Homo sapiens: one gene and its partners. The protein of the gene in region 4 interacts with the protein of the main gene of each other region in a pairwise test. Each region holds a gene or a part of one and is shown on either strand. Other genes may lie near its edges.

Region 1 (7,923 bases), on a different chromosome or scaffold from region 4:
ACACAAGCATTCAGACAATAGCATCCATTGATGATCCTTGCCTGAATCAATGATTTCATTAGAAATTGCCAATGATGGCTTCCTGTCATTCATCTATATTGATTAGCTATACTTTCCCTCACCACCTGGAGCCACCCTGTTACCTGGAAGTAGATTTCTATGGCAAAGCAGAATAGTGCTAACTTTTCCTCTTTAAATATTATTTCAGAGTAAGAGCCTGGTGTGATTGCCAACTCCAGTGGTGACAAAGGATGATTTTTTTAATTTTCTATTTTCTTCTCTTTGTTTGCAAGTTTTCACTTATTATAGCTTACTGGTGAATTGAAACTTTCGTGATTATGTAGTGACCCTCTTTATCCTAAAGTCAGTTTTGTCTTTTTGTCCTAAATCCTTATTTAGAAAAATATTATATAGCTACCCCAGCTTAAATTTGATTAAATGCTTGCTGTCTGTACCTTTCTCCACTTTTTCAGTTTTAATGGTTCTGTAACCTGGTGTTTTGTGTATGTCTGTTACAAATAACATATAGCTTGATCTTACATTTTTATCCAATTTGCCTATCTCTGTATATTATTTGGTGAGTTTAATATTTATTGCGATTATTAGTACTTTTTTCACTATCCTACTTTGTATATTCTATTTGTTCCATTTTTCTGTGCTTTTCCCTCCTTAGTGCTCTTCCTTTCCCTCCTTTCTCTTTTGTACTTGCTTGATGTATTTGTTTTTTATTCATCAATTGCTACTTTCAATTGTTTTGGAAGTGACACACTTTTATTTCCATTCTTTTGGTGATTACTCTTTTAACTAACCATCTAGAACATAGTACAAACATTTTATGTAACATAACATTAATATTTAACCCTCCTTTTGGACAATTTAAGAACTTCAGAATATTTTAACTCCAGCTATCCCCTTTAATTTACATGCTGCATGCTGTGGTTACTCCATATTTCAGTTAGGCCTTTAAAAATTAACCCACAATGGAAACTTCTTGGTCAAATTTTAACTAGCTAGTATTATATTTATATACAGGGTCTTTTTTCTTTACTGATGTATTTTTCTACTCATAGCCAACCAATAAATTCAATATCTGTTTCAAAAAAAATTAACCCACAAAATAAATATTATTGTTATTTTAATAATATGTAGACACGCCTGTAATCCCAGCACTTTGGGAGGCCGAGGCGGGGGGATCACTTGAGGTCGGGAGTTTGAGACCGGCCTGGCCAACACAGTGAAACCCCATCTCTACTAAAAATTCAAAAATTAGCCGGATATGGTGGCATGTGCATGTAATCCCAGCTACTCGGGAGGCTGAGGCAGAAGAATCACTTGAACCTGGGAGGTGGAGATAGCAGTGAGCCAAGATCCTGCCACTGCACTCCAGTCTGGGTGACAGGGCAAGACTCAGTCTCAAAATAAGAAGAAGAAGAAGAAGAAGAAGAAGAAGAAGTAGACAGAGTGTGTTTAGACTTACCTACATTTTCACAATTGCCTCACTATTGCTACTTGCTTCTTGGTTCTTCCTTTTAGGATCATTTTCCTTCTTCCTAAAGTAAATGCTTTATATATTCTTTTAGAGAAGGTTTGTTGATGGTAAAGTCTGTTTTTGTTTTCTTGAAAATGCCTTTATTCTTGAAAGATAGTTTTGTAGGGTTCACAATCCCTGATTGATTGTTATCTTTTGGCATGCTGGAGATATACTTCCACTGACTTCTAGCTCCTTTATTGCTGTGGGAAAGCCTGTTGTCAGTCTAATTGTGGTAGATTTGTGGTACTGTGGGTGGTCTGGGTTTTCTCTCTGCTGCTATAAGGAGTTTCTTTTTGTCTTTGGTGTTCTGCAGTTTCATTATAATGTACATAGGTGTGGATTTATTCTAATTTTTCCACCTTGGTTGTATGCGTGTACACTATGGTGGTGTATGTTCTGTGGATTCACACCTTTTATCAATTCTGGAACATTCTCAGCTCTTATCTCTTTGGTACTGTCTCTCTCTCATTGTCTTGATTCTCTCTTTCTGGGATTCTGGATATGTTAGAATTTACCATTCTAGGCTTCATTGCTCCTGGCCTTGTTTTCATATTTTTAATCTCCTTATCTCTCTCTGCTGTTAAGCCTAGTCACTTCTTCAATTTATCTTCCAGTTCATTTGTTCTCTCTTAATTGGTGTTTTAATTGTTATTTACCCCATCCACTTAGTTTTTTATTTTTATAATTATAGTTTTTATTTCTAAAAGCTGTATTCAGTTCTTTTTCAAATCTGCCTGTTATTTTTGCTTGATTATTAAGATATCCATTTTTAACAGAAAATAGCAAGTGTTAGGGGGGATATGGAGAAATAGTAACTCCTGCAAACTGTTGATGGGAATGTAAAATGGTGCAGTCTCTATGGAAAGCAATATATCAGTTCCTCAAAAAATTCAAAATAGAATTACCATATGATCCAGCAATTCCACTTCTGGGAATATACCCAAGAGAATTGAAAGCAGGGCCTCAAAGAGATACTTGTACACCCATGTTCACAGCAGCATAATTCACAATAGCCAAAAGATAGAAGTAACCTGAATGTTCGTATAAACAATAGAATATTATTTAGTCTAAAAAGGGAAGAAATTCTGACACATGCTACAACATGGGTGAAACTTGAAGACACAATGTGAAGTGAAATAAAACAAGTACAAAAAGACCAATACTGCATGACTTCACTTAAATGAGGTACCCAGAGTAATCCAGTTCACAGAGACTGAAAGCACAATGGTGGTTGCCAGAGATTGGGAGGAGGGGGAAATGGAGAGTTGTTTGATGGGTACTGAGTTTCTGTTCTGGAGATGGATGGTGGTGATGACTGCACAATAGTGTGAATGTACATAACACCACTGAACTATACACCTAAAAATGGTGAAGATGGCAACTTGTGTTATGTGCATTTGACCACAGTTAAACATGATTTTAAAATGTGGAACTAGTATTCATTTTTTATTCAAATATTTTATAAATTATCATATTGGAGGCCCTATAGTGTGGTAGTTTACAGCATGAACTCTGTATTCCAAGTGCTCACGTTCAACTTACAGTCTATAATCTCAGGCAAGGAGCTTAACCACTTTGTGCCTTAGTTTTTTTAATCCATAGAGTGAGGATAAGAATAATACCCATCTCACAGATTTCTGTGAGTATTAAATGAATCAGTACATGATGAAGCACTTACAATAGTGTCTGGCACATACAAATACTCTGCAAATATTGCTTATTATCATAAGTCTCTAATATTCTGACATCTGAAGCCTTTGGGGTTCTAAATTAGCTGTTTTTTATGCTGCCCACTTAAGGTGTTTTTTATTTTTCAACGTCTCTGATCTTTGATTGTGAGCTCATATTTGGAGGATCTTTGGGAATCCTGAGGCTCTAAATTTGGGAAATTTTCCTCCAGACCATCTGCAATTTGAGACCACATTTACTGCCATCAGTTATCCCTGCTTCATGTAGGAGCCCTGGTTCAGCTCCCTTGTCTTCAGTGTGTCCAGGTTTAGCTCCACTGCCAGCCTTCATATAGGTCTCGACCCAAGATTTTAGTGTATTGCTCCCAGATCATCACCTTAGTTTCCACTCACAGTTCTGATGGTTTTGTTTTATTTTGTTTTGTTTTCTGGGTTTCTATTTTCTTTGTTTTTGGCATTTGAGGAATTCTGTTGTTTCCTAAGAACCTAGTACAGTATGAACAAGTATATTTCATCTAGGATCTGACTTAACTATAGCAAGACAGTCCTCAGAAAACCCAAGCTTTCATACAGATGCCAAAAAAGTCCATGGGGTTTAATTCTTTGACCATTTTGAGTGCAGGGACTTATTCATGCTTACATCCTCACAACTCAGCTTGGGGACTGCCTCACACCTGGCAGCTGATCCTTTTTGTTTTTTAAATGTAAGAAGCCACACTGAGGGCTCTCCAGGCGGAAAAAGTTAGGACACAGGACCAGCATTTCTTTCCAGCCACTTGTGGATCCCTGATTGAATGTCACCCTTGACTGCCTAACTCATCTCTTTCCCAAGTCATAGGTTATCCCTGGCTCCTGGCTGATTATCACAGGCAGGGAGGGAGGGAAAGAGGCAAAGGGAGAAGGCCCTGTGTGGGACTCAAACTTGCTCACCCTGGTTTCTGTAATCTGCAGCTCACTCTTGCTGCCACTCAGCAGATCTGGTCTCCCTAACTCTTTTTTCCCCTGCCTCTACTTTGAGACTCAATTGCTTCCCCAGGACTTCTTTTCTCCCCAAGCCAAAGAATGAAAGTTCAATCATCCCAGCTCAGTTCTTATCAAGCATTCCAGCTAGCCTATGCCAGAGATGTTACACAGCTCTTTAATAATAGTGGCCATAGCTGTAATAACAATGACAACAGTAGGTAACGGTAGTCATACCAACAGTAGGGCAGTGCATTTTATATTACAACTGGTTTCTTGCTCTAGTAGGCTTGGGGATGGGTGAAGACGGACAGGGCTGGCGCAGACCCTTTCCTTCTCCTCTCCAGCCCACAGTGATCTGGGCTTTTACAAGACAGCCTGCTTCCATTCAGTAGTGTGGGAAAGTTCCTTCTTGGCTTAGCAATACCCCTGAGACCTTGTTCAGTGGGCTGTGTCTCTCCCTGGGATGCTGGGAGCACCAAGTGTGGCCGAGCTAGGGCTGCTGACTTCCTCTGGGCGCCTCTGGGCTGCGAGGGTCTCTTATAGGAATTGAGGCCCTTTGCTGCTCCAAGAAATGCTGAGGCTGTGGGCAGAGGGGTGTACCCAAGGGGACTCTTGCTCTGTGTCTGACTTTGGGGGATCCCCAGGTGGGCAGGGCAGGAAGGAAGCGGCTCCCAGCACTGCAAAGGGGCAGCAGCATTACAGCTCAGCCTAGAATAAGAGAGACCGATGAAGAGAAAGTCAGATTATCTGAAACTGGACAAAGTGGTGACATGTGTAACGTGAGTCTTCCTTTTCTGAAACACTTTGCTTCTCTCCCTACCCTGCAGAGGGCCAGGAGGTCTCATGAGCCTTTCCACTCTCTTCCTTATCAGAATCTTCTCTCTAGAAAGGATCTGATAGTCTCATTCTGTCAGAAAAGAGAAAGAAAGGCTTGGTGTGTTCTATTCCCTAAGGTATTTGCATTTATCAGAAATCTCTGACCTAAGGAATTTCAGCCTTAATAGTGCAATCTCAGGCTGTCCCTTGCTTGGAGGGAAAGTTATTTGGGATGTAAAGAGTTGTCAGAACCATTTAAATCAAACCTGAGGATGGATTGGCACCCCCCAGGTAGAGGACTGGAGGGAAGGCACAGTGGGTAGGGCAAAGGTACCTTACCTTCCAGACATTGTAGATCCAGTTGAGATAGGCTGAGACCTTGGTGTATACTCCTGGGGTGCTCGGGCCCCCGCAGCCATAGCCCCAACTAACGATGCCCACCACATGCCACTGGTCAGATTGGTACATCAGGGGCCCACCACTGTCACCCTGTGAGAGACCAGAACAGAGACTGCTGGGGAGGGCAGGTGAGGTGGGGGGGCTTCTCCTTCTCTGCTCCCTGAACTGGCCTATCTGTTCCCCTGCACTCCCTGCTGCTCTCCGATATTCCACCCTCACCCTCTTTGCTCATTAGCACCCTAGAATGGTCTTCTCTTCTGGGGCAGAAAGGCTTGTCTGTGGACAAGTAAGTTGCAAGCATGCCGTTAGCCTTCTCTCAGAGATTCACAACTCACATTAGCAAATTAAAGGCTCTGAGTGATGTCTTAAAAAAGCCTGGTTGTTGGCCAGGAGCGGTGGCTCACACCTGTAATCCCAGCACCTTGGGAGGCTGAGGCGGGTGAATCACTTGAGGTCAGGAGTTCAAGACCAGCCTGGCCAACATGGTGAAACCCGTCTCTACTACAAATACAAAAATTAGCTGGGCATAGTGGCAGGCACCTGTAATCCCAGCTACTCAGGAGGCTGAGGTGGAGAATCATTCGAACCCAGAGGCGGAGGCTGCAGTGAGCCGAGATCAAACCACTTCACTCTAGCCTGGGCAACAGAGTGAGACTCAGTCTCAAAAAAAAAAAAAAAAGCCTGGTTATCATTGTTTAACCTAGTCGTTCCAAAATTTGTGTAATCACTTATAGAGTGCCTATTTTGTGCCAGGTAGTGTTCTAAGCAATTGGGATCCAACTGATGAAAAAAAACAAAGATCCCTGCCCTCAGAAAGCTTAGGATCAAATGGGGTGAGAGACAGTGAACAAGCAAATAACAAAACAAGAAAATGCCAGATAGTGAAAAGTGCACTTATCTGGGAGTCCTTATCAGCTGTTTTAGCCCCTGGGGCTTCCTCCCTCTGAACCCAAAACTATAGCTTAAATGTCTGTTTAATGCCCCCCTTTCCCCCAACCACTGTGAGCTCCCTGAGGGGTCTCCAAAGACTACCATGTTCATGGCACACATGCGATGACTAAGAGATGCCTCTTAAATGAAGGAATTTAATGACTGGAAATGGAGGTGAGAGTAGGGTAGGGGTTTTAATGAAAATGGTTCAGGCCAAGCACGATGGCTCATGCCTGTAATCCCAGCATTTTGGAAAGCTGAGGTGGGAGAATCCCTTGAACCCAGGAGTTTGAGACCAGACTGGGCAACATAGTGACCCTGTCTCTGTTAAAAAACATAAAAGAAAAAATAAAAAAAGAAAATAGTTCAGAAGATCCTCTGGAAGTATGGGGGAGGAAGAAGGTCTACAGGGATTGCTAAGCAGTCCTGATGGCCAATGAGGCCGGGGTGAGGGCACACACAGATGTGCTTCCAGCATTCTGCAGGCGGTAATTCTTTCCTAGTGTAGTTCAGCAGCTTGGGGAGAGTCACAGAGAAAATAGACCTGGGATTCCTGACCTCAAGGGGCTAATCATTCTGTAGCTAGTGAGAAGGGTGGGTGGGGTGGATGAGTAATGTCATCTTTGTTGTTGTTGTTGTTTTCAGATGGAGTCTTGCTGGGTCACCCAGGCTGGAGTGCAGTGGCGCAATCTCAGCTTACTGCAACCTCTGCCTCCTGGGTTCAAGCAATTCTCCTGCCTCAGCCTCCCAAGTAGCTGGGATTACAGGCACGTGCCACCACGCCCAGCTAATTTTTGTATTCTTTTTAGTAGAGATGGGATTTCACCATGTTGGCCAGGCTGGTCTTGAATTCCTGACCTCAAATCACCTGCCCGCCTCAGCCTCCCAAAGTGCTGGGATTACAAGCGTGAGCCACCATGCCAGGCCAGTAACATCATCTTCGAATGTGAAAGAGACATTTGAAATCTCTCTGCTTGTCTGCATCCATCCATCCACCCACTCATCTATTGGTACACTTTTATCTGACTATCCTTTCCTTCCCTCCCTCTCTTCCTCCCATCATCACACATTGAGTGCCCATGATATGCAAGGCTTCCTGTAGGGCATGCAGCCTCTGGGTTTTCTCATCTCTCTAGGACCTAAACCCTATTCTTAGAACTCCCCATGATTCTTGGAGGCCCCACCTGGCAGGTGTCCACACCCCCTTCCGGGATGCCTGCACACATCATCTTCTCGGTGACTTCCCCCTGGTACGCATCGTCTGCATTGCACCGTGTGCTGTCAATGACCTGGACTGACGCCTGCAGCAGTATGTCAGACATCTTCCCTGGGAGGGTAAAAACACTCACATTCCCATCCTTGCCTTCTATCCCCCAGCCCTGGATTGCCAAACCACTTTGCTTTCTGCCTGGCGCCTTGGTGCTTGGTCCTCCAGGATGGGTTTCTCTGAAGGGTGGTCCTCCTTCCCATTACTTCTGGAAGCTGCTCCCTCATACAAGGGCATCTCCTGCCCTGTGGTCCTGCACCCAGGACTTACCTCCATTCTGCTTCGTAAAGCCCCATCCAATGATCCAGAGTGGGGTGGCTGGAGTGAGC
Region 2 (8,136 bases), on a different chromosome or scaffold from region 4:
TGAGGGCAGTTTTCAAAAAGGTTACTTTGCCCCCTCCTTCTGCACAAAGCAGGAGGGAGTTTTAATCCAATCCTTGTCCTAAGAATCTGCTGCAGCTCTGAAAAGTAAAACTCCCAAAAGTGTAAGGGCACCATATGAGTGGTCTCCCAGGAGTTTCTAACTGTCAAGCTAACTCACACTCAGCATCCAGCAAGTCATCAATGACCATTTTAAGTGTTCCTACCATTTGCTGCCTCATGAGGATTTCTGTTCCTAGCATGCTGATATCAGTTGTGATTTTCTGTATTTGCCTACCCAGTTTGGGGGTGGCCATTTGCTTTGTGACCTCCATTATCTGATGGATATTTTAAAGGCTGTTAATGTTCCATTTGTTCAGCTTTTTTCTTGTGAGGACAGTTGTGATTGACTTCTAAGTGGTTTACGTGTCACAGATGAAACCAGAAGTGTTAAAAAATAAGAAAAGAGCACACAAAAACAAAAGCTTTCTAGAATATTCAATATTTTGAGGGTAAAAGGTCCTGGGACTAAAGTGTTTGATTGCCACTATGCAAAGGCACTCTGTTAGCAACAGTAGATACATATATGATTCTACTCTAAATTCTACAAGTTATATATAATAAACTTCTCTTTAAAACAGTCAAGCCAAAAAAATACATTGTGATATTGGTGGAAAGATTTCAAAGATATGCCTTATTCTTTATTTCAAGTGAAAAAATAAAAATAAAGCAAAAAATACCATTTGCCATTCACGACAAGAGTAATTTACATTAAAATTGAGGTCACCTAGGCACCAGCACAACACCCTGGCTTTGTAACCATCTGAAGGGTTCTTCCTGCCTGCTACACAAAGATCATGGCATTGTAGTAAAGAAAGAGTTTAATAGACATAAGGCCAGCCACAATTCTCATCCAAAGCTTATAGGTTAGGGATTTTTCAGAGGCAGTTTGGGGGAAGTGGTGGAGGTCGCTAGGCTTGCTGCTGATTAGTTGGGGCAGAGATGAAATCACAAGGGGTGAAGCTGTCCTCTTGCACATTGAGTCACTTCTGGGTGGGGCTGTAGGAATGGTGGGTGTCAGACATGCAAAAAAACCCTGAAAAGATATCTCAAAAGGCCAGTCTACAATAGTGGTGTTATCTGCAGGAATAATTGGGGAAGTTGCATATCTTATAACCTTCTGAATAATAACTGATAATAGTTCATGTCTGCACCTTAGCAGGACCCAGGCTCCTCTCCTCCTGCCAGCCTGATGCAAAAGCAGTTGAGTTTGGGGGAAGGCCTATGATAATTTAAACTATAGCCTAAATGTCCCAAAAGCCCAAGAATAATCAAGGCAAGACTGGGGATGGATTAGCTCAGATCTCTTTCACTGTCATAATTTTCTCACTAACTTTTGCAAAGTTTTTTCAGCTTTGAAAATAAGATTGAATTTGCCAGTTTCACCTCTTTCTACTCCTGTTATACTGTGATAGAGTTCCCAAACAACCCCTATTGCTATCTCTATCAATTCCATACAACAAACCTATACTCAATCTCTACTAGGCACAAAACAATTCCTATTTTCAACAACTGTACAGATGGTTGGGAAAACAAATGTGAGAATTATTTGGTAAAGCTCCATACCAGAAGAGAATTATAGTATCTAAAAACTCTAAGTGTAGCAGAGAGAAATTACTGACAAATTCTCTCACAGTGTGGAGGGCTGTGCTTGGCACTAAATGATGAACAGGATTTTTCCTATCCAAAAGAAGGGGCATTCTAGGTAGAGGGAAAAGCATGTACAAAAGCTGGGGGGTCTAGGAGGCAGGCAGAAGTCAAGGATAAAGGGCTTTGTATGCCTGTTAAGAAGTAATGGTGGCCAGGTGCGGTGGCTCACGCTTGTAATCCCAGCACTTTTGGGAGCCGAGGCGGGCGGATCACTTGAAGCCAGGAGTTTGAGACCAGCCTGGCCAACATGGCAAAACCCTGTCTCTCCTAAAAATACAAAAATTAGCTGGGCCTGGTGGTGCACGCCTGTAGTCCCAGCTACTCAGAAGGCTGAGGCAGGAGAATCGCTTGAACCCAAGAGGCGGAAGTTGCAGGAGCCGAGATCACACCACTGTACTCCAGCCTGGGTGACAGACTGAAACTCCATCTCAAAAGAAAAAAAAAAGTAATGGTGATGGTGATTCAGTCAGAAAGCATCAAGCATCAGGACAATTGATAAAAGATTAGAGGGCAGTGCAGAAAATGAAACGCAGGTGAGGAGATAATGACTATCAACCAGTAAAGAAACTCCTGGAATTGTTCCGATGAAAGCTAGTATTTCAAAACAGAGAGGCAGAGATGGAGAAAGACAGGGAAGTTTTTCTTTAAAAACCAAAAATAAAACAAGACTGGGTGATAATACTGAACATACGAGATTGAAAGAAAGGGGAGACGACAAAATGCTGTAGGCTTTCTGCCTTATTTAAGGAAGTCAAAATCCAGCTTATAGTATTGATCTTGCTCATGAAGTTTCAGATAGGTAATTCTAAAAAGCCTATTTTCCTTTAGACTGTCCAATTATGATGACATGTATCAAAGTTAACTTATGACTACAATGGGCTGGGCATAAAGAACAGGAAGTCTGGTGTACACAACTTAGAATGCATCTGGAGTACAAAAGGAAGAAAGAGGCAAGATCTACTTCCTATTCCATGGGGCATCTGGAAAACTCCCTCAGGCGACCGCTCCATCCAAACACCTGGGATCTTTCTCAACCTTCTGATTTCTGTCACGAGGGCATCCAGCATAGTCCTGGCAACGCCGTAGGATCAGGGAGCATCAAATGAGATGGCACCTGGGGAAGGCCCGTGTGGCCCAGCGTCCACCACTAACGCCGTTCAATATCTACCTCAACTCCCCTCTAACGCGAGAATGTGTATGAGAGAGGCAGGGAGAGTTCGGAGTAAAATTAACCCGAATGGACAGCGCTTCCGCCGCGTTCGCTGCCACAAATGCTGCAGACCCGACGGAGTGGAGGCAGAAAAGGCCCTGGCGTCCACTCGGGAAAGAACGAGGTCAGGAGTCGGTCCTGCACATCGCGTAGAGCGAAGAGACGACACCTACCTGACCATAGACGCTCCCCATCCGCCCAGCAACCGTGGTCCATGCTGCCTGCGTCCACCGCCAGCGTCGAAAAACCGCCGTGGTGCCCGCGCACAGTGCACCGCGCCTGCGCATGGTCTCCAAAGGCTGAGCGAGGGCCTGCCAGTGCGCATGCTCCGCTCTTTAGCGCTTCCTGAGCAAAGTTTGAACGCCTCTCGAGTCCAGTTGGCTTATGCGCATGCGTTTCTCTGGTGCAGGTTCTCACCAAATCCAGAAGCGGCGGGCATTTGAAATGATGTAAGCCGGGAGTCGCTCTGCCTGCCCGTTTCTGCGCTGCACTGGCCGACACTTAAGCACTGGAAGAGAGGCCTGGCAGGAGGCGGCGCAGTGGACACGCGGTCCGAGGACGGGGGCCTCACCCGCCGCCCCACGCTTGCCTCTTCCTGGGATGCCGCAGGCGGGGCCCTAACTCACAGCCTCCTCACCCGGGCTCGTGTCTGCGCCCGCGACTTCGACTGGGAGGAGCTTCTGGCGCCACCTGCGCCACGGTGCGCCGGGCCGCCGGCGACCGGGTCGCTGCGCTCGGCGACTGCCGCGCTCCTCGGGGAACGTGAGGGTCTGAGTCCGGGATCCAGGAGAGCAGTTGGTGTCGGGTCTCTGCGGGGGAGCGGGGCTGCGAGGTGGAGGCGAGGACCGGGGTGGGCGGAGGCGGGGTAGGTCTGGCCGGGAAGTACCCGAGGCCCCGAGGCATGAGCGGGGGAAGGTGACCAGGACTTGGAATTTCATAAACGTCCCCGTCAGGCGTGACGGGTCGTCAGGGCTGCTATCAAAGTCAGTCCGCCCATCTACCCTCAAACAAGCCACCTCCTCTCCACCAAAACAGGCTGTGTAAAAAGTCCAGCTATAGACGACCGCCGTCGACTTAATTTCGAAAAAGATACACTTTGTCTTCTATTGTGTTCTGCTCCTACTCCTGTGCACACAGTAGGTGTCCAGTAATGTATCCGAGAATCAATTGCAGGGGACTGAGTAGAACGTTGATGATTGAGGAAAAAATAGAGGGGGAAGCCCTGATGTGTGATGCCTCCATTTCCTTATGAATTCTGTGTTGAGCATTTGTTAGAATAAACCTCATGGCCTAACAAGTGGGTTTTGAGCCATGTTCAGAAACTATACTGTGTGATGTTTTCACCTGTTTTCTTCTCAGCCAGAATCTGGTGATTTAGAAGAGAAGATTGAACAACCAAGATGAAAACCCCTGCTTCCTTTACCTGAGGTGTGGCCCTGATGGAGGTGAAGAAATCGCTTCTATTGGCATTTTAAGTTCAGCAAGAAATATGGAAGTGTACTTAGGAGAGGAGTACTGTGGAACCAGTAGGGGCAAGAATGTTTGTACTGTCTTGGATGACAGTTGTGTGACTTGTACACGGGAAAGTGTTCTCCTGAATTGGTGTCTTTATTCTGTTCACCTTTTGCAATATTGATTGACTCTCTGACATTGATGTTTACATTAGAGAAGAGAAGATAAAAACCTACTATGGCATAGAAGGTTAGACCATTAAAGCATCTTCTAGGCAATCTAGTTCAGCTTCCTCATTTTTAGGAATGCAGAAATTTAGAGCTAATAAAGGAGAGGTGAGCCTGGAGAGGGTCATACTAGTTAAAGTGTCCAGGCAAGAGTGCAGTCCTTATTGCTGCTTCTTGACTCTCTCCATAAACTCACAATGGTCTGTTTTCCAGAAATTAATTTGACAGTCAGTCTGAAACTTTGATCACATATTTTTTAAGGAACCTACAAGCCCAAGGTGGTGCCACACCAGCCTATTTAGTCCATATTCAATGTGTTATAGTTTGATCTTTTCCCTAGTCCCTTATAGGAACATTCTACACTAATCGCGCCTTAATATAAATCAAAACGTCAACTATTTTACATATTGTGCATATTGGAAATAATAAATACACGACACAGGGTTATTGACCAGGTCACTTGAGAAGGGATCTCAACTGTTTGTCCCCTACCAGGCAAACTGAATCTCAGGATTTAAGTAATGGCCTGGAAACAATTTTTTTTTACTGCAGCTGTTTAAACTGATAATTTATATAAGTGAAAAAATAATTTTTATTCTATTTTCAGTAAACGCGAAATTATTTTCTACAAAAATTACTTAATATTGGCATCCTCCACTCATGCCTGTAAAATAAAGGTAGGTCATCACTAAATTTTAACTAATTTGACAATTGCAAATGTATGTATAATATACTTATGTACTGTTGGTTTGTTCATACAGTTAGTCCAACTTAGTCCTTGTTTATCTTTATATGAAACTATGGTGCCAAGAAAACCACGTTTTGTCCCCATTATGTTTAAAAAGACAAGAATTAGAGAAGTTGCAGAGAAAAGCACCTAAAAGCTATTTGGACTGGTACCCTGAATATGAAAAATATTGTTGAGGTGAACTTTAGTGATGTCATCAGAGTTAAGAGTACTGAGCTACAAATAGCCCAAGGTATTAATGCAGTTCTGTTAGTTACTGCCTGAGTGACCTTGGGAAAATCTCTACATTTCTTTGGACCTACCTCATGGGTAAATTAGAAGACTAAAGAAAATAAAGCATTGTATTCTTTTTGTCTCCACATTATACAGGGTTGTGAGACTTACTTTAAGGAAAAAGTTGGCCGGGCATGGTGGCTCATGCCTGTAATCCTAGCACTTTGGGAGGCCGAGGCAGGGTGATCCCTTGAGCCCAGGAGTTTGAGACCAGCCTGGGTGGCATAAGGAGACTCTGTCTCAAAAAAGAGAAAAAAATAAAAAGAATAAGGAAAAAGTTAATGATTTTTATAGCAGGCAAGTAACAAACTTACAGATCAGATTGTTCCAAGACATTGTTTTAGGTAGTATATATTAATCGCTTCCAAAGTCATTTAAATAAAGTGATTTATTCAACAAATATTTGAGTGCCTACTGATACCAGATACAGACTGTAGTAGGCATTTAGGAAGCAGCAGTAATAAAATGGAGCAACTACCCTTGTGTTGCTTATATTCAAATGGGATGAGACAGGTAATGAGCACACTCTGAATAAAATTGTGTTTTGTTTGGTGGTGAGAAAGGCTATAAGGATTAAGAAGCAGAAAGGGGATAAGAGAGAGGATGAGAGGCGACTGTTTAAATTTAACAGTGTTTTCTTAATTGTGAAGGATGGTCACATCTTTGGTGCCATGGGTCTGAATTGACCTGTGTCTTTGGGTTACATATGGTTCTGTGTGTCTCTCTGAAGATGAGTATTTTTTGTAACTATTCTATGGAAGTATATGTGAGTGCAAAGGGTCATTTCATTTAGGAAAATCCCAAGCCTACTAAAGCTTATTCTGAGGCAGCAGAATATGAAAGTTACAAAAATAGTTACTGATGAATATTTTCAAATACTTACTCATTGGAAATTTTAGCACATAATCCCAACCACCATGTGAAATCACTGATATGATCCTCCCTCATGTTAATTCTGATTTGTGTTTTGGCATTTGTCCAGGATCATACAGGCTATACAGAGCAGACTCATAACTGAACTCTGGTTTATCTCATTCTAAATCCTGTTTCCTTTCCATTTTGATACTGTTTTTGGTGCCACACATGAAATGTCTTTTGGTTCATAAACATGAATGAAGAGAGGCAGCATAAAGCATTGGAGAGGGCACTGTTATAACAGCCAGGAGAGCTAGGTTCTAAGCCTGACTTTTACTAATTGGGTAATCCTTTGACAAGTTAGAAAATTACCTCTAACTTCATCTTTTTAAATGTGTAAACCAGTGGGTTACGTGAGACCATCTTGACCCTGCCTTATAATTCTAAATGGCTCATTTATATTTAGTAATTCAGTAAACACTTTGGATGGGCTTCTGAACACCCTTATTTTGTATTAAAGAATATTATAGTAAGCAGCTGTGTGTTAAAGTCTCAGATTGGCATAGTCTATTCTGAGTTGCTTAAATAAATGAAACTTTAATTTTACCTTCTTTCATATATTTAGTATATTTTTTTAGTTTGAAAATGACATTGTCTTATATAAATTGTTCTTCTGAGTTTCATAATAAATTGAAACCTCTGACCATTACTGTATTAGGGAAAACTTGAAAATATATTTAAAGTTTATATTTGTTTTCCTGAATACTTTACTCTTGTTGATAATACAAAGGAGTGACCTTAAATAGTGAATATTGTTTAATATTATTATTTATTTTCCTGAACTTTGTATTGTAATAGTTGCGCTCCTTTGGTGAAAGACAGTGTGTGTTCATCAGTAAAGTTGTGATACACATGAGAGCAGTTTCAGCAAATTATTCAACAGGCTCTCCTGCTGTAAAATCAAGAATAGAACTAGACAGGATCCAAACCATAATGGAGTCCATGGGGTCAAAGTTATCTCCTGGAGCTCAGCAATTGATTAATATGGTTAGGTTTCAGCAGTGGGTAAGTAGAAATGGATGACTTTCCAGATACCATTAAAAATTATAAGTAATGGCTTTTTATAAATACATGTAGTGATGTAAATTTTTTCTTTGAAATTTTGTAATTGATTTAACTGTTATCTTTATTTACTTGTGTAAAAAATAACATTTCATAGACTTGCCCTCCTACAAAATATTTTGACTACAAATCTTCACACTTTTTCATGAATTCATTCACACATTCATTCAGCAAGTATTTATTAAGCACCTTCTTAGTGAACAAGGCACTAGTTTGGGTACATTTCATGATGCAAAGATATCAGTTTATAATTTGTCTTTAAGGATTTACATTCTAGGACATATAAATGGGGAGGGATGAAGAAGATTAGGAAAGGCTCACTAAAGGAAGTGGTATTTTTATCTAGGCCTTTAAAGGACAGGATTAGGCAAGTAAATTTGGAAGAAGGCCAATTCAGACAAAAAATAGGCTGAATAAAATCTTCAATGCTAAAAGAATTGGATGTAGCTGAGAAATGAGTAGTAGTTCATTTCTCTGAAGCAGAAGGGGAATAGGGGAAGTTTAAAGTAGATTTCAGCTAGGTCATAGTGAGAGCTTTGAATG
Region 3 (8,047 bases), on a different chromosome or scaffold from region 4:
ATAACATCAGGCGTGGTGGCTCACACCTGTAATCCCTGCACTTTGGGAAGCCGAGGCCAGCGGATCACGAGGTCAGGAGATTGAGACCATCCTGGCTAAAACGATGAAACCCCGTCTCTACTAAAAACACAAAAAATTAGCTGGGCGTGGTGGAGGGTGCCTGTAGTCCCAGCTTCTCGGGAGGCTGAGGCAGGAGAATGGTGTGAACCCGGGAGGTGGAGCTTGCAGTGAGCCGAGATCGCACCACTGCACTCCAGCCTGGGCGACAGAGTGAGACTCCATCTCAAAAAAAAAAAAAAAAAAACAACTTTAAGTTTAAAAAGATTCCTTGTGAAATAAAATTATATCAAAGTACAATCATCTGTTTATATTATCTACTTGAAACTTACCCTAGAACGACAAAAAGATTTTCATAAAGCAAAGCTTTTAATGGCTAAAACCCAGAAACAGTCAAAATGTCCATCAATAAGGAACCAAAAAATGTATATTAGGGTACATCCAAACAACGGTATACCATGCAACATTCTGAAAATGAGGCAAGTTGGCTGGGCAGGATGGCTCACACCTGTAATCCCAGCACTTTGAGAGGCTGAGGCAGGTGGATGGCTTGAGTTCAGGAATTCAAGACCAGCCTGGGCAATATGAGAAACCCGTCTCTACAAAAATTACAAAAATTAGGCATGGTGGCACTCGCCTATAGTCTCAGCTTCTCAGGAGGCTGAGGTGGGAGGATCGTTTGAGCCCAAGGCTGCAGCAAGCCGTGAGGGAACCACTGCACTCCAGCCTGGGCAACACAGTGAGACCCGGTCTCCAAAGTGAGGGGTGGGGTTGGGAGGAAATGAGGTAGGTCTCCACGTGCTTATGAAGGAAATGTGTCCTTATATTATCATCAGTTGCCGAGCAATATTATAATATAATACCCTCCTAGGGAATGGAATTGAGGATGTAAAGAGTGAACAAACAAGGAATTCTAACTTGACATACCTCTGCGCTGTCTGAATTTTACTTGATATTCTTCTGTCATGTTTAAATGTTTTAAACAACCTGAATGTTACTTTAATCATTTAAAAAGTAAAACGGGCTAGGTACGGTGGCTCACGTCTGTAATCCCAGCACTTTGGGAGGCCGAGGCGGGGGGGGGTTACCTGAGGTCAGGAGTTCGAGTCTCTACTAAAAATACAAAAATTAGCTGGGCGTGGCGGCGGGCGCCTGTAATCCCAGTTTACTTGGGAGGCTGAGACAGGAGAATCGTTTAAACCTGGGAGGCGGAGGTTGCAGTGAGCCACGATAGCGCCATTGCACTCCAGCCTGGGCAACAAGAGCAAAACTCGGCCTCAAAAATTATATATATATATACATAAGTTAAAAATAAACTTTAGGCCGGGCACAGTGGCTCACGCCTGTAATCCCAGCACTTTGGGAGGCTGAGGCAGGTGGATCACGAGGTCAGGAGATCGAGACCATCCTGGCTAACACGGTGAAAACCCGTCTTTACTAAAAATACAAAAAATTAGCCGGGCGTGGTGGTGGGCGCCTGTAGTCCCAACTACTAGGGAGGCTGAGGCAGGAGAATGGCGTGAACCCAGGACGTGGAGCTTGCAGTGAGCCGAGATCTTGCCACTGCACTCCAGCCTGGGAGACAGAGCAAGACTCTGTCTCAAAAAATAAATAAATAAATAAATTTAAAAATAATAATAATACACTTTAAAAGGCCAGGCGCGGTGCCCACACCTGTAATCCCAGTACTTTCAGAGACCGAGGCAAGCGGATCACTTGAGGTCAGGAGTTCAAGACCAGCCTGGCCAACATGGTGAAACTCTCTCTCTACTAAGAATATAAAAATTAGCCAGGCATGGTGGCAGGCGCCTGTGATCCCAGCTACTCGGGAGGCTGAGGCTGTAAAATCCCTTTAACCCTAGAGGTGCAGGCTGCAGTGAGCAGAGATCGGGCCACTGTACTTGTAGCCTGGTCAACGAGGGAGACTCTGTCTCAAAAAAAACAGAAAAGGAAAATGAGGATAAAATACGATAAATTCTTTACCTTGGCCCCCAGAAGTGAATTCAGAATTCAGAAAAGACTAGCCAGTGTAAGGCTGCTGTAACCCTAGTTGACAGAGAGGAGGGATTGGGGTGGTGAGTGGGAAGGCTGTGTCTCCGGAAGAAGAAATATACGTCCCCACCTCACTCTAATTAAACCTGCTTTTCCAGCGCGATAAATATTCAAGATAACTTTTGGTTTGCATTTCAATAACAAAGTCTTGCACCACTATCTTCAGTTTAAAAAAAAAGTTTAATGTTTGCTCTACGTTTGAAATGCATGCAGGTTTAAAAGACAAGAAACAAAATGATGAAAAAGTGTGACCGGCCTGAGAGTTCAGAGCCTCTGAAGTGTCAAGGGATCCACAGTGCAGGTAGGATGAAGAGTCTGAGAAGGGAGATGGGATCCTCCGAAAAGAGAAAATCGGGTCTTACAGCGCGATGTAAGACGATGCGGATGCCACTTCCCTCCCACCCCGTCCCGTCCGAGGCCTCCGCCCCCTGCCCCTCCGCACCCCCCGACCCAGGCACGCGCAGCGGGGAGCAGCCCAGCCTAGCCCGTCTCACTGCTTTGGTTTTGAAAGGTCACGTATTTACCTTAGAATTTCAGCACCTTCCAACTTACTGTTTTAAGTACCTTTAACCAGCCTATTGGCTAAAAACCGAAACGGTCCTACCCGCGACTACCACTGCTCCAGTGACAATGCTCTGCTGCTACTTATTTAACGGAGCTCAAGGTTTATAATTCTCGAAAGAATGTTGTTCCCCTTCCCTTTCCCCTCCCGCCTCTGTACTTGACTCTCGTAAGAATGAAATCAGAAAAGTGCAGAAAACACAGGCTCCTAGCAATGGTTCGGGGCAAACGGGAGGGGCGAAGAAGGGCTGGAGCCGCCCCGGGGCCCTCGCTCCGGCCTCGGGAGGGCGTCGCGGCCGCAGCAGGGCGTCCCGAAAACCGTCGCCTCCGTGCCCGCCGCGCGAGAAGGTGAAAGGCACGAGATGGAGCCTCTCCAGCCCTCCCCAGGAACGCAACCTGACGGCGTGACAGCGCGGCAGGGCAGCCTCCCCGGGCTGCTTGCGGGTCGCGGCGGCGCCACGGTCACGGTCGGCCCGAAGGGACGCGGGCAGGGGCAAGAAGGGGCGGCGGGGGCTCCGCGGGCCCGAGTCTGCAGGCCGGCGCCGAACGCAGGGAAAACCCGGCTGGACGGCCCCACAGCCCCCAGAAGGCCGGGCCGGACAGGGCCCGACGAGGGAGCCTCCTTACGCGCGGGCGGCGGGCGCGAGCCCTCTACGGTTGCCTGGCGCCGGAGACCCACAGACAGGACTCACCCAGCTTCCTCAAACGCCCACGCCGACTTCAGGCGCGCGCGCAGGAAGGAGACTGCTGCGCCACAACCCTGCCGGCGTCCCGCGGCTCCACCTCAGCCCCGGGAGCCCGGAGCTGGGAGCAGACGCGAGGATAGAGCGCCGGTGAGGCGGGGCGAGGCGCCGTGTGCACCGCAGCGACCAATCGGAGCGCAGCAAGTGGCCGGCCGGGGGCGGGGCGGGACGCGAGGGGGCGGGGAGAGGGCGTTGGCTGGGCGCAGCGGGACGCCGGGCGCTCCTCGCGACCAATCGGCGTGCAGCAAGTGGCCGGCCGGGGGCAGGGCGAGCTCCGAGGGACGGGGTGGGCTGCTCTGCAGGCCTCCCGGAGCCGGAGTTCAGACCCAGCTATCTACGGTTCCGGGCAGAGCGGGACGGGCCTCTCCTGTCCCCTGCCGGTGGGCGGCCGCCGCCGGGCTCCCACTGCTGCGTTTCTGCACGCTGACTTGAAGTGCAGTACCGTGAGATTACGTGCGGACGGAGCTCGAGACCCGGGGGACCAGGGTTTCCCTTCGCCTATGGCCGATCAGTCTTGTCTGTCTGCGAGCTGCCCAGAGTAGGGAAGGTGCTCCGGGAGGGTTCTCGGGAACGGAGGGTCTTTAGAGATGCCTTTTTCTAATCCCCTCAATTCAGAAATGGAGCCCCAGAAAGTTGAAGTTAGTAAACCAGGGCTACCCAGCGAGTGCTGGTTACCCGAGGTGATCCTCACAATACAACTAGTCTTCTGATTTCGCTCGGCGCTCTCCCGTCTATTCACGTAGATTTTTGTCTTTTTTTTTTTTTTTCGTCTTTCTTATAGTCAGATATCTTTCAGCCTCTTGGATTTTCAACATAACTTTAACAGCGTTTGGAAGCCCCGTCTAAATTTCCTACAGAAATGCCTATAACCATTTAGTTGTTTGGGGGAAAGTCGAGCTTTGTTTTTTGGGTGGTTTGTTTGTTTGTTTTGAGACAGGGTCTTGCTCTGTTGTCCAGGGTGGAGTGCAGTGGTGTGATCTTGGCTCACTGCAGCCTCTTACCTCCCACGCTCAATCAATCCTCCCACCTCAGCCTTCCGAGTAGCTGGGATTACAGGTGCGCACCACCATGCTTGGCTAATTTGTGTATTTTTAGTAGAGACGGGATTTCACCTGGCTGATCCTGAACTCCTGACCTCAGGTGATCCACCCGCCTCTGCCTCCCAAAATGCTGGGATTACAAGCGTGGGCCACTGTGCCCAGCCAAGTAGAGTTATTATCAGTGGAAATCTAAAAAGCATTTTACTTGAGGCATAATGAAGTAAAAGGTTTTGTATCATGGAATTATCACCAAAAATGCCATCCTGGATAATGTTCTCCTATAGCTCTTATACATGGGCTAGGATCTAGGTGTTCAATAAATATGTGCTGAATAATTTACTTTTGAAATATGTCACAATGCTGGCATTCCACCAGAAGAGAGGATACAGAAGGGAACACTCTCCTCTCTTTAAGAACCTTTTGAAAGGGGCGGGGGTTGCATGTACCATTTTTGTTTTCATTCTGCTAGTAAAATAGTCACTTGACTACACCAAATTGCAAAGAAGGCTGGAAAATGGGGTTTCAGTACTAAGGAAGGAAAACTAGATATTAGGGGACAATTAGAAGTTTCCAAATCTCATCACTTTTTTTGGGGGGGTGGGGGAGGCATCCCAAAGGGCAGACTGGTTTATTAGGCAGCAGCCAGGAAAATCAGCGGTTGGACTTGTCCCCACACTCCAGCTCATCCTTCTTGTTGATGGCATAGGAGCTGGAGGAGGCCTTGGTGGCATTGATGAGCTCATCCGCCAGGCACTCAGCAATGGTCTTGATGTTCCAGAAGGCAGCCTCACGAGTGCCTGTGCACAGCAGCCAGACGACCTGATTCACACAGTGCAGTGGGGACATGTCCACAGCCTGTTGTCTCACAGTCCCTGCTCGCCCAATGCATGTGGAGTCCTCCCAGGGACCACTGTTGATGATGGCGTTCACCAGGACCTGGAGAGGGTTCTCGCCTGTGAGCAGGTGGATGAAATCGAAGGCATGCTTGATGATGCACATGATCATGAGCTTGTTGCTGTTGTTGCAGCCGTGCATCATCATGGAGTTAGTGAGGGGCTCCACAATGGGGCACTGAGCTTTGCGGAAGCATTTGGCTGCATACCACCCAGCACTGTGAGGCAGGTACTTGGCATACTTCTCCTTCACTGCAGTGTAATCCTGCAGGGAAATGCCATTGATCTGCATATCATCAGTGCTCCACTTCCCAGAGAGCTTGATGTCAAGGGGTCTCTGCCACTGCTGGTGCTGCTGTCTCCCACTCGGTCATCCTGAGGGCACAGCCTGAGTGTCTCTGTCGATCAGCATGGACCACATGCTGCCCTGGCACAGACAGGCCATTGCTTTTTAAAGTACTAATATTTTAAGGTTTCCCAGGATTTTTTTAAGCTTTGTTACAGAATAATATCTGTAGAAAAATGATTACCTCCATATATGAAGGAAGACATTACTGTTCACCTACCGTTGGGATGCACATGCTTTAAGTTGCTTTTTTAGTAGTGGAGACTTATGTTAATGCAGCTTGTCTGAAGTCCTTTTCTACTGCTATAACAGAATAACACAGAACAGGCAATTTATAAACAATAGTGTTTTATTTGGTCCACAGTTCTGGAAGCCGGGAACTCCAAGAGCATGGTGCTGGCATCTTGTAAGGATTTTCATGCTGTGTCATCCCATGGTAGAAAACAAGACAGACAGGGGCCAACGAGCATACAAGACAGAAGGAGAAAATCAGGCTGACGCTATCCTTTTACCAAGAGCCCAATCCCAAGATAACTAACCCACTCCCACAATAACAGCATTAATCCATTCGTGAGGGTGGAGCCCTCATGACCCAATCACATCTTCAAGGTTCTACCTCTCAACACGATTACAATAGTAATTAAGTTTCAAACACATGAACTTTTTGGGGACACATTCAAACCATAGCACAATTTGCTTCTCTCAGTCTATAAACCTCTATTCCACAAAGAGTCAAACATGTATTTAGTTATGCTTTCAAAAATATGGGCATTTGGCCGAGCACAGTGCCTCACACCTGTAATCCCAGCACTTTGGGAACCAGAGGCGGTTGGATCACCTGAGGTCAGGAGTTCCAGATCAGCCTGGTCAACATGGTAAAATTCCGTCTCAACTAAAAAGAAAAAACAATTAGCTGGGCATGGTGATACATGCCTGTAATCCCAACTACTCAGGAGGCTGAGGCAGGAGAATCACTTGAATCCGAGAGGCAGAGGTTGCAGTGAGCCAAGATCACGCCACTGCACTCCAGCCTGGGCGACAGAACAAGACTCCGTCTCAAAAAAAAAAAAAAAAAAGGCATTTGAAAGATACGGGGATTAAGTTGCTGATGTCAACATTTCGCTGTCAATTCCAAATGTACTGATTTAAGTATTTAGTAGAATTGTAAATCAGCCTTTAAAAAAAAAAACCACACATGGCCGGGTGCGGTGGCTCAAGCCTGTAATCCCAGCACTTTGGGAGGCCGAGGCGGACAGACCATGAGGTCAGGCATTCGAGACCAGCCTGGCAAACATGGTGAAACCCCGTCTCTACTAAAAATACAAAAATTAGCCAGGCATGGTGGCGCTCACCTGTAATCGCAGCTACTCAAGAGGCTGAAGCAGGAGAATCGCTTGAATCTGGGAGTCAGAGCTTGCAGTGAGCCGAGATTGCACCACTGCACTCCAGCCTGGGCGACAGAGTGAGACTAAGTCTCAAAAAAAAAAAAAAAAAACCACACATTTTCTAATTCAATTGGTATTCTACCATGTAGCTACTGAAGCATATGTTTTGTTAAATTCCTGTTACCCAAGCACTTCAGAGAGGCACTCCTAGATTCTGGAGACATTGTGACTTCAGGACCATTTTCAGGTTTGGGCCAGGACAGGTTCTGAAAGATCTACTTCACCTAAAACTAGACAGAAAATGCAGTCCAGTTGGTACAAGCCTATTAAGAGAAAGGAACAATCCAGGCTGTCCTTCACGCTACGCCCCATGGGTTCTAGTTTATTCTCTCTCAGGGCTGCTTCATGAACTTACTCTGATAGAGTGGTATTCACGTCCATCTTTTGAGTGTACAAGCCAAATGTGTACCACAGGAACTATCTGAAAGGCTAAAACATGTTGCATAAACAGGTACTTCCCAAAATATTCTCTTTCTCCATATGCTTATGTGGTTGTATAACAAAAAGATTCATCTGAATAAGTCTTAGGCAGCTATTAGAACTGTTGTATTTTGATAAAGGTGTCTTGAGACTAAGGTCATACTTCCTGTGGGTCTGAAATGGACTCTCTCCTGAAAGGATGGCTATTCAGTGTCAGTCATTTAGGAGAAAAGACTGATCTTTAGATGGGAAACAAAAAACCAAGGCCTGGAAGATAATTTGACTCCAGCAGAAGAGGAAATACTTCTTTCCACATCTAGACTCTGAAGACAGTGTATACATTTGTCAGTTGGTCTCTTTCAGTTATAAGTAACAGAAAAGAACATCTCAAACTGGCTTAAATAATGAGTAGGATTCTGTGGCTCATGGAACTGGAGGATCAGAGTTATCATGGGTGTTATGGTCTGAATGATTATGTCTCCTCAAAACT
Region 4 (7,923 bases):
CTCTGATAACAGGACCCATTTAACTGCTCCTAATCCACAGGGGTATGATTATGTTGGGGTAATAACTCCTGAGAATGGCTTTGCCACAGTTACAGCATGCTGAGAGGGAGCGAAATATGAACCCTGCATAAATTAGACTACCAGGTACAAAGTTTGCTATTAGTTAGTGCTATCATACCTCTAATAAGAGTGTATCTCGCCATAGACAATTGCATTTAGCTGCATGATGAGATGACAGGCAAATTTTTCAGTCTAATGTATATGAGTTTTGTTTTTTTAAAAATACACCTATAACTTTATGAAAACCCTAATATATTTGAGAGATAAAAATGGACGTTTGTTTTTATTTTTTTTCAAACAAGATTTTAATTGATGCTACAATTCTATCCCCTTGGCTCTTAATACAATACTAGTTTTTGAAATGAATCAAATGCCATGTGCCTGCTTTTCTTTTGGTCCTTGACTTTGTTTTAAAACTGTTCATGCCACCTCAGGAAAGAGTCTGCCATTTTGTTAATTGCTGTGGTGAAATCATTGCTGTGGTCAAAGTAGCTAACTTTGAAGATCATACCATGAAGATTTTAGTTGGCAGTGATCTTAAATTAGCTAACCACACATGTGATCAGATATCTCTGCCTTACACCTAAACTGCCAACATTAAGGTAATATAATTACATAACCCAAAGATTGATCATAAGCATGTGACTTCCTCAACCAATATTATTAAACAGGCTTGACTTGGCTATTTTACCTTGCAAGGATCAAAGATTAAGATTTAGACATCAGGATCACTAAAATGTGAAATAAAAAGGCAATGAATGAATTCAAGTCATAAGGCCAAATATTCTCAGATGGTTACATGAGAACCAGCTTTTGTGAGGCTTCAATACTATTCTTAAAATAGGTGGTGAACACTCCTATTCAACACAGTATTGGAAGTTCTGGCCAGGGCAAACAGGCAAGAGAAAGAAATAAAGCGTATTCAAATAGGAAGAGAGGAAGTCAAATTGTCTCTGTTTGCAGATGAGATGATTGTATATTTAGAAAACCCTGTCGTCTCAGCCCAAAATCTCCTTAAGCTGATAAGCAACTTCGGCAAAGTCTCAGGATACAAAATCAATGTGCAAAAATCACAAGCATTCCTATACACCAATAACAGACAAACAGAGAGCAAACTTATGAGTGAACTTCCATTCACAATTGCTACAAAGAGAACAAAATACCTAGGAATACAACTTACAAGGGATGTGATGGACCTCTTCAAGGAGAACTACAAACTACTGCTCAAGGAAATAAGAAAGGACACAAACAAATGGAAAAACATTCCATGCTCACGGATAGGAAGAATTAATATCATGAAAATGGCCATACTGCCCAAAGTAACTTATAGATTCAATGCTTTTCCCATCAAGCTACCATTGACTTTCTTCACAGAATTAGAAAAAACTACTTTAAATTTCATATGGAACCAAAAAAGAGCCTGAATAGTCAAGACAATCCTAAGCAAAAAGAACAAAACTGGAGGTATTACGCTACCTGACTTCAAATTATACTACAAGTCTACAGTAACCAAAACAGCATGGTACTTGTATCAAAACAGATACAGAGACCAATGAAACAGAACAGAGGCCTCAGAAATAATGCCACACATCTACAACCATCTGCTCTTTGACAAACCTGACAAAAACAAGCAACGGGGAAAGGATTCCCTATTTAATAAATGGTGTTGGGAAAACTGGCTAGCCATATGCAGAAAACTAAACTGGACCCCTTCCTTATACCTTATACAAAAATTAACTCAAGATGGATTAAAGATTTAAACATAAGACCTAAAACCATAAAAATCCTAGAAGAAAACCTAGGCATTACCATTCAGGACATAGGCGTGGGCAAAGACTTCATGACTAAACACCAAAAGCAATGGCAACAAAAGCCAAAATTGACAAATGGGATCTAATTAAACTAAAAAAACTTCTGCGCAGCAAAAGAAACTATTATCAGAGTGAACGGGCAACCTGCAGAATGGAAGAAAATTTTTGCAATCTACCCATCTGACAAAGGACTAATATCCAGAATCTACAAGGAAGTTAAACAAATTTACAAGAAAAAACCCCGTTAAAAAGTGGGCAAAGGATATGAACGGACACTTCTCAAAAGAAGACATTTATACGGCCAACAAACATGAAAAAAAGCTCATCATCACTTGTCATTAAAGAAATGCTAATCAAAACCACACTGAGATACCATCTCACTCCAATTAGAATGGCAATCATTAAAAAGTCAGGAAGCAACAGATGTTGGAGAGGATGTGGAGAAATAGGAACGCTTTTACACTGTTGGTGGGAGTGTAAACTAGTTCAGCTATTGTGGAAGACAGTGTGGCAATTCCTGAAGGACCTAGAACCAGAAATGCCATTTGACCCAGCAATCCCATTACTGGGTCTATACCCAAAGGATTATAAATCATTCTACTATAAAGACATATGCCCACATATGTTTATTGCAGCACTGTTCACAATAGCAAGGACTTGGAACTAAGCCAAATGCCCATCAATGATAGACTAGATTAAGAAAATGTGGCACATGTATACCATAGAATGGTATGCAGCCATAAAATGAGTTCATGCCTTTTGCAGGAACATGAATGAAGCTGGAAACCATCATTCTCAGCAAACTGACGCAGGAACAGAAAACCAAACACCGCATGTTCTCACTCATAAGTGGGAGTTGAACAATGAGAACACATGGACACAGGGAGGGGAATATCACACACCGGGGCTTGTCGGTGGGTGGGGGACTAGGGGAGGGATAGCATTAGGAAAAATACCTAATGTAGATGACAGGTTGATGGGTGCAACAAACCATCATGGCACGTGTATACCTATGTAACAAACCTGCATGTTCTGCACATGTATTTCAGAATTTAAAGTATAATAAAAAAAACTTTAAAAAAGATAGTGAAATTGAAGGATAATCTTACATATTTTCTTCATCTCTTTGTATCCCTTTTTCATATTCTAAGGGGGCAAAATGTAGCAGAGGAAGAGCATGATTTACCATATGCATATGAATTTGAATCCCAAGTCTGCTACCTATTAGCTATGTGACTTTGGAAAATTGTGGTGACCTCTCTGTTTCCAGTTTCCATATTTCTTCAAGAGAAACAGCATCATAATATGTCCCATGTAAGGGTTGTAGATAATACATACAAAATGCCTGGCACCTATGAGGCACCCAATAAGTGGGCAGCTGAAATAATATTCATTATTGAATATTGCTTTTATCAATATCATTCTATCATTATATCAATATCATAATATTAATTATAGTAATTCAATATTAATGAGTATATACTGATATACTTTTATGATTCTCAAAGTCTAATCTTTTGCCAGTGGCAGAGACCCACCCAATATTTTTTTCTTCTGAGAAGTCTGAAAGTCCTTGGGGAAGATGAGTCACCTTCAGAAATTAGAAAAGAAAGCAGAGCAGCAAATTGTGAGAACAGTTGAGGAGTCATCCTTCAATAGGTAAAGTTCATATACACCAGGGTTAAGTTCCAGGAGTGCCACTTAGAACCTGCCCCTGTCAGACTCCTCTTCCTCTCCCAGGTATGCTCGGGTCAATGATTTTACTACTATTAGGGTGTGGGATGATTTAAAGGGAAGGAAGGTATATGGGTGTGCGTGTGCACATGTGCTTACAAGTAAAATTATAATTCTTGAACAATGTTGATTCTGTACTTTTTTATGTGAATATGGGAAGATAGTTACTAGGGGAAGGGAGAAATAAAACTTCTTTTTCTGGATTAGGTAGGCAGAACCAGAAGTTCCTTTGCTTAAAGTCATTTTCTCCATATTCCTCACCAATTGGAGGATAAGTTCTGCCAAGTTCCTCTTCTGGGTAAAGAATGCCCTTGGAGAGGTCAGGCGTAGTGGCTTATGCCCATAATTCCAGCACTTTGGGAGGCCAATGCAGGAGGATTGCTTGAGCCCAGCAGTTTGAGACCTGCCTGGGCAACCCCATCTCTACAAAAAAATTTTTTAAAAGTTAGCCAGGTGTAGTGGCACATGCCTGTGGTCCCTTCTACTCAGGAGGCTGAGGTGGGAGGATTCCTTGGGCAGGAGAGGTCAAGGCTGCAGTGAGCTGTGATCACACCACTGCACTCCAGGCTGGACGACAGAGTGAGACCCAGTCTCAAAACAAAACAAAACAAATACTCTTGGAGTGTTAAACATATTGGTCATTCCTAACTTCTTGCCATTATCAGTTTAAGAAGTTAGATTTAGGAAAGTGGAGTTTTTCAGCAAGGCTTGGAAGAGGAGTTTCTTGGAAAAACAGAGAAAGCAAAAATTGGAGGAAGCAGGATGTCAGCTTCTTCTTGCTTTTGACCTTCTTCCATTTGTGCTTTCTCAATAATACGATCTCATTTATTTCGGTATTTGTGGCTGCCCCTACTTTCTGGAACCCACTAATCCATCTTGCCAGAATTCCAAAGCATCCCATTCTTCAATTTCCCTTTCTTTAACATGCAATTTCCCACACAAAAAGTAAAAGATTGTAATGGGAGAGAAAAGAAACATCCACTTTGGTCATGAAATCCATCTGGATCCTGATAAATGGTAGATATTTCAGAAAACTTTAAAAATCATGAGTTTTGAGGATCAGAGCAAAGGCACACGTAACTCAGCATGTCTAATGATGGTGGCCAAAAATCTGTCAGTGGAGTCATCATGTGACTAAGATTAGAAGGGTTATGCAACTGTAAAGCTGGAAGGAACTTGTCTAGAACAGCGAGCCCCTCGTTGTATAGATCACAGAGCATTTAAACGGTGAGAGATGTCAGAAATCACCTAGTATCGTCTCCCATATACAGATGCAAGAACTGAAAATCAATGAAGTGATGGAATTTTCTCAAAGCGTAATCTCTTGTGAGTGGCAGAGACCCACCTCAAATCCAGGTTGCTTAATTTCAATAGTGTCAGTTTACCAAACGTTTATTAAGTACCTCTTTGGGCCATGCACTGTCTGAGGCCCTGGTTTGAAGGAGCACTGGGATGAATAATACACAGCTCCTGCCTTCTTGGGGATTAAGATCTCCTTGCAGGGAAATACACATTCTCAAATATTTATAATATAGTTGTTTTGAAATAATAGAGCAAACATCAAGGTCTGGGAAGGACAGAGGAGGAAGCAATTATTTGGCTGAGAGAAGTTGAAGGTTTTTCTTTCACAATAGTGCTTCTCATACATTATTATCTTCTATTCCATTAATTGCTTTTTTTTTAATGGGAGGTAAACAAAACCTCTATTTGCTGGACTGTTTTAATAGGTGAGTGAGACTAGACAACAGGACCCCTAAGCTAAAAGGCAGAAGAGCCCATGCTTGCTGGTGAAATGGTGCATATAGCTTCTTCCTCTCCTCCCCTAACCAGGTAGTCTTTGCAGATGAACTTCATAGGCTTCCCCTTTACACACCCCCATACCTGCTTCCACACAGACCATAGGGGGAAACACAGGATATCAGACAGAGCTACATCAAAGACCTTTGTAGCTCTGCCATCGGCAGGGTGATAGGAGAGACGCAAGGTGTGCAGGGTCATGACCAGTGAGTCACTTGGGGCAGGTCAGGTCAGCAAGAGACAAGAGTCACACTTGGAGGAGACCATGGAGATAGAGAGTGCCAACTCTCAGTGACAGGCACTGAGACCCTGAGGCCCAACCATTTCATCCCAACATGTGTTTGAGAAGCCACCTGCTTGCTCACAGAAGTAGTTTCAACATTTTCTCTCCAATTTGGGTCAAATGCCTCATTTAGTAAAGAAACTCTGCTTTTCTAAAATATGAAGTGAACTAATTTCTGTTCAGCTTTTTATAAATTTTCAATCATGAGGTCCAAATTAAAATGCTTTTCAAAGTATGACTAAAGTTGCAAGCTGTGATACATGATTGGTTAAATTTTATTTTTCACATTTTAAGAAAATAATTCCATATGTTTTTGCCAGCTCATTGAACTATCTTGGCAATGAATAGATCAGTATATCTAGGAATGATTGATACCATATGATTCTTGGGTATCATATTTTGATGATATTCTGCAATGTTTCAAATTACCGAAACAGAAACCCACCCACACACACTGAGGCTCAAAATTTGCAGTTTTTGTCTTGATGGCTACATTTAGAGTTTAAACATCATCATTAAAATTTTACAGGTGACATATCAAGAAAAATTAAGCCCACTAGTTGTGTCTCTTTGAAGGGAAAACATTCCTTCATTATAATGAATGAAATTGTATGCTAGGTATGAATGCTGGTGACCTCTAGAAAATGAACCACTGACCCATAAGTGGATGAGAATCAGCCAGAGTAAATGAGGCAGAAGTTTTCCCAGCGTAACTGGGCATGCTGGCAGGGCAGATTCTTGTTATAATTAAAAGAGATAGAGTGGTCAATAGGGAACATTTAATAGGAACAAACATGACTACATTGCCAAACTATTTTTCTGGTCCATTTTTCATTCTCATGTTATGCCATATATCTGGGTTTTAAAAGTGACACAAGCATTGCACATGAAACTAACACACATACAAGTGTACAGCAGAACCCAGGAAAAATTCAATTAAAATATGAACACCATCAATCACCAACTTGTTCAGAGCAAATCCCCATCTAAATCTGTACTGACCAATACAGTAGCCATAAAAATGAGCATGTGACCCTATGCAAATCAGACATCCCCTCCTCCAGACACTGCATATATTCCTGGCTGGTGTCTACCATACTTAGGGACCTCCTCTTTTGGCTTTGGAGCGCCCCACCCCCGCGTCTCTGTACAGGGGAGCCATTTTCTTCTGCCTTCTCTTTTCTTTCTTGCCTATTAAACTCTCTGCTCCATAAAACCACACACAAAAAAATGAGCATGTGAAATGTGGCTAGACTGAATTAGATGTAATGTAAATGTAAAATACACTCTAGATTTCCAAGACAGCGTCAAGAAAAAAAAAAACAATGTAAAACATCTCAATAAATTTTTAATTATATGTTAAAATGATAATATTTTGGATATCTTGGGTTTAAAAAAATCATTAAAATTAATTTCATCTATTCCTTTTTACTTTTGTTTTCTAATATGGCTACTAGGACATTTAAAAGTACATATGTGGCTTGTGGCTTGTAATATATATATATATATATATATTTTTTTTTTTTTTTTTTTTTTTTTTTTTTTGAGACAGAGTCTTGCTCTGTCACCAAGGCTGGAGTGCAGTGGCGAGATCTCGGCTCACTGCAAGCTCCACCTCCCGGGTTCGTGCCATTCTCCTGCCTCAGCCTCCCAAGTAGCTGGGACTACAGGCGCCCCCGCCACGCCCGGCTAATTTTTTGTATTTTTAGTAGAGACGGGATTTCACCAGGTTAGCCAGGATGGTCTCGATCTCCTGACCCTGTGTCCTCCCAAAGTGTTGGCCTCCCAAAAGTTGGGATTACAGGCGTGAGCCACTGCACCCGGCCTGCTTATAGTATATTTTTATTGGCCAGTGCTGATATAAATGAAACATTTAGGTATGCAAAATAGTGTTTATCCACCTAACAGAACTGAAATATAAATTCCTATTAATTGATAATAACATGACAACACAAAGAAAACTTGCCATGAGACCAGCCTGGCCCACATGGTGAAACCCTGTCTTTACTAAAAATACAAAAAAAAAATTAGCTGGGCATGGTGGTGCACGCCTGTAGTCCCAGCTACTTGGGAGGCTGAGGCAGGAGAATCGCTTGAACCCAGGAGGGGTAGTTGCAGTGAGCCGAAAAAACTGGCCACGAAGTGATTGTTACCTTGATAAGTTACCTTTTCCATTCCTCTTACACTGGTAAGATTCTGTGAATTCAAATGTTTGCTTAATAACTTTCTAAAGGCACA

The links.
Region 1: the proteins of CLRN1 (region 4) and TMPRSS4 interact in binary tests that used the Homo sapiens proteins (3 or more experiments, as listed by UniProt).
Region 2: the proteins of CLRN1 (region 4) and FAM24B interact in binary tests that used the Homo sapiens proteins (3 or more experiments, as listed by UniProt).
Region 3: the proteins of CLRN1 (region 4) and TMEM50B interact in binary tests that used the Homo sapiens proteins (3 or more experiments, as listed by UniProt).

What each region holds. Positions count from the first base shown.
Region 1 is NC_000011.10:118,114,869-118,122,791, reverse strand, and holds the end of TMPRSS4 (transmembrane protease serine 4), read right to left. Parts: coding exon 7,865-7,923; intron 7,655-7,864; coding exon 7,512-7,654; intron 5,488-7,511; coding exon 5,338-5,487; intron 4,891-5,337; coding exon 4,879-4,890; 3' UTR 902-4,878; downstream 1-901. UniProt on the Homo sapiens protein: Plasma membrane-anchored serine protease that directly induces processing of pro-uPA/PLAU into the active form through proteolytic activity.
Region 2 is NC_000010.11:122,876,396-122,884,531, forward strand, and holds the start of FAM24B (protein FAM24B precursor), read right to left. Parts: upstream 3,187-8,136; 5' UTR 3,090-3,186; intron 1-3,089.
Region 3 is NC_000021.9:33,476,476-33,484,522, forward strand, and holds the start of TMEM50B (transmembrane protein 50B), read right to left. Parts: upstream 3,500-8,047; 5' UTR 3,363-3,499; intron 1-3,362.
Region 4 is NC_000003.12:150,962,115-150,970,037, forward strand, and holds part of CLRN1 (clarin-1), read right to left. Parts: intron 1-7,923. UniProt on the Homo sapiens protein: May have a role in the excitatory ribbon synapse junctions between hair cells and cochlear ganglion cells and presumably also in analogous synapses within the retina.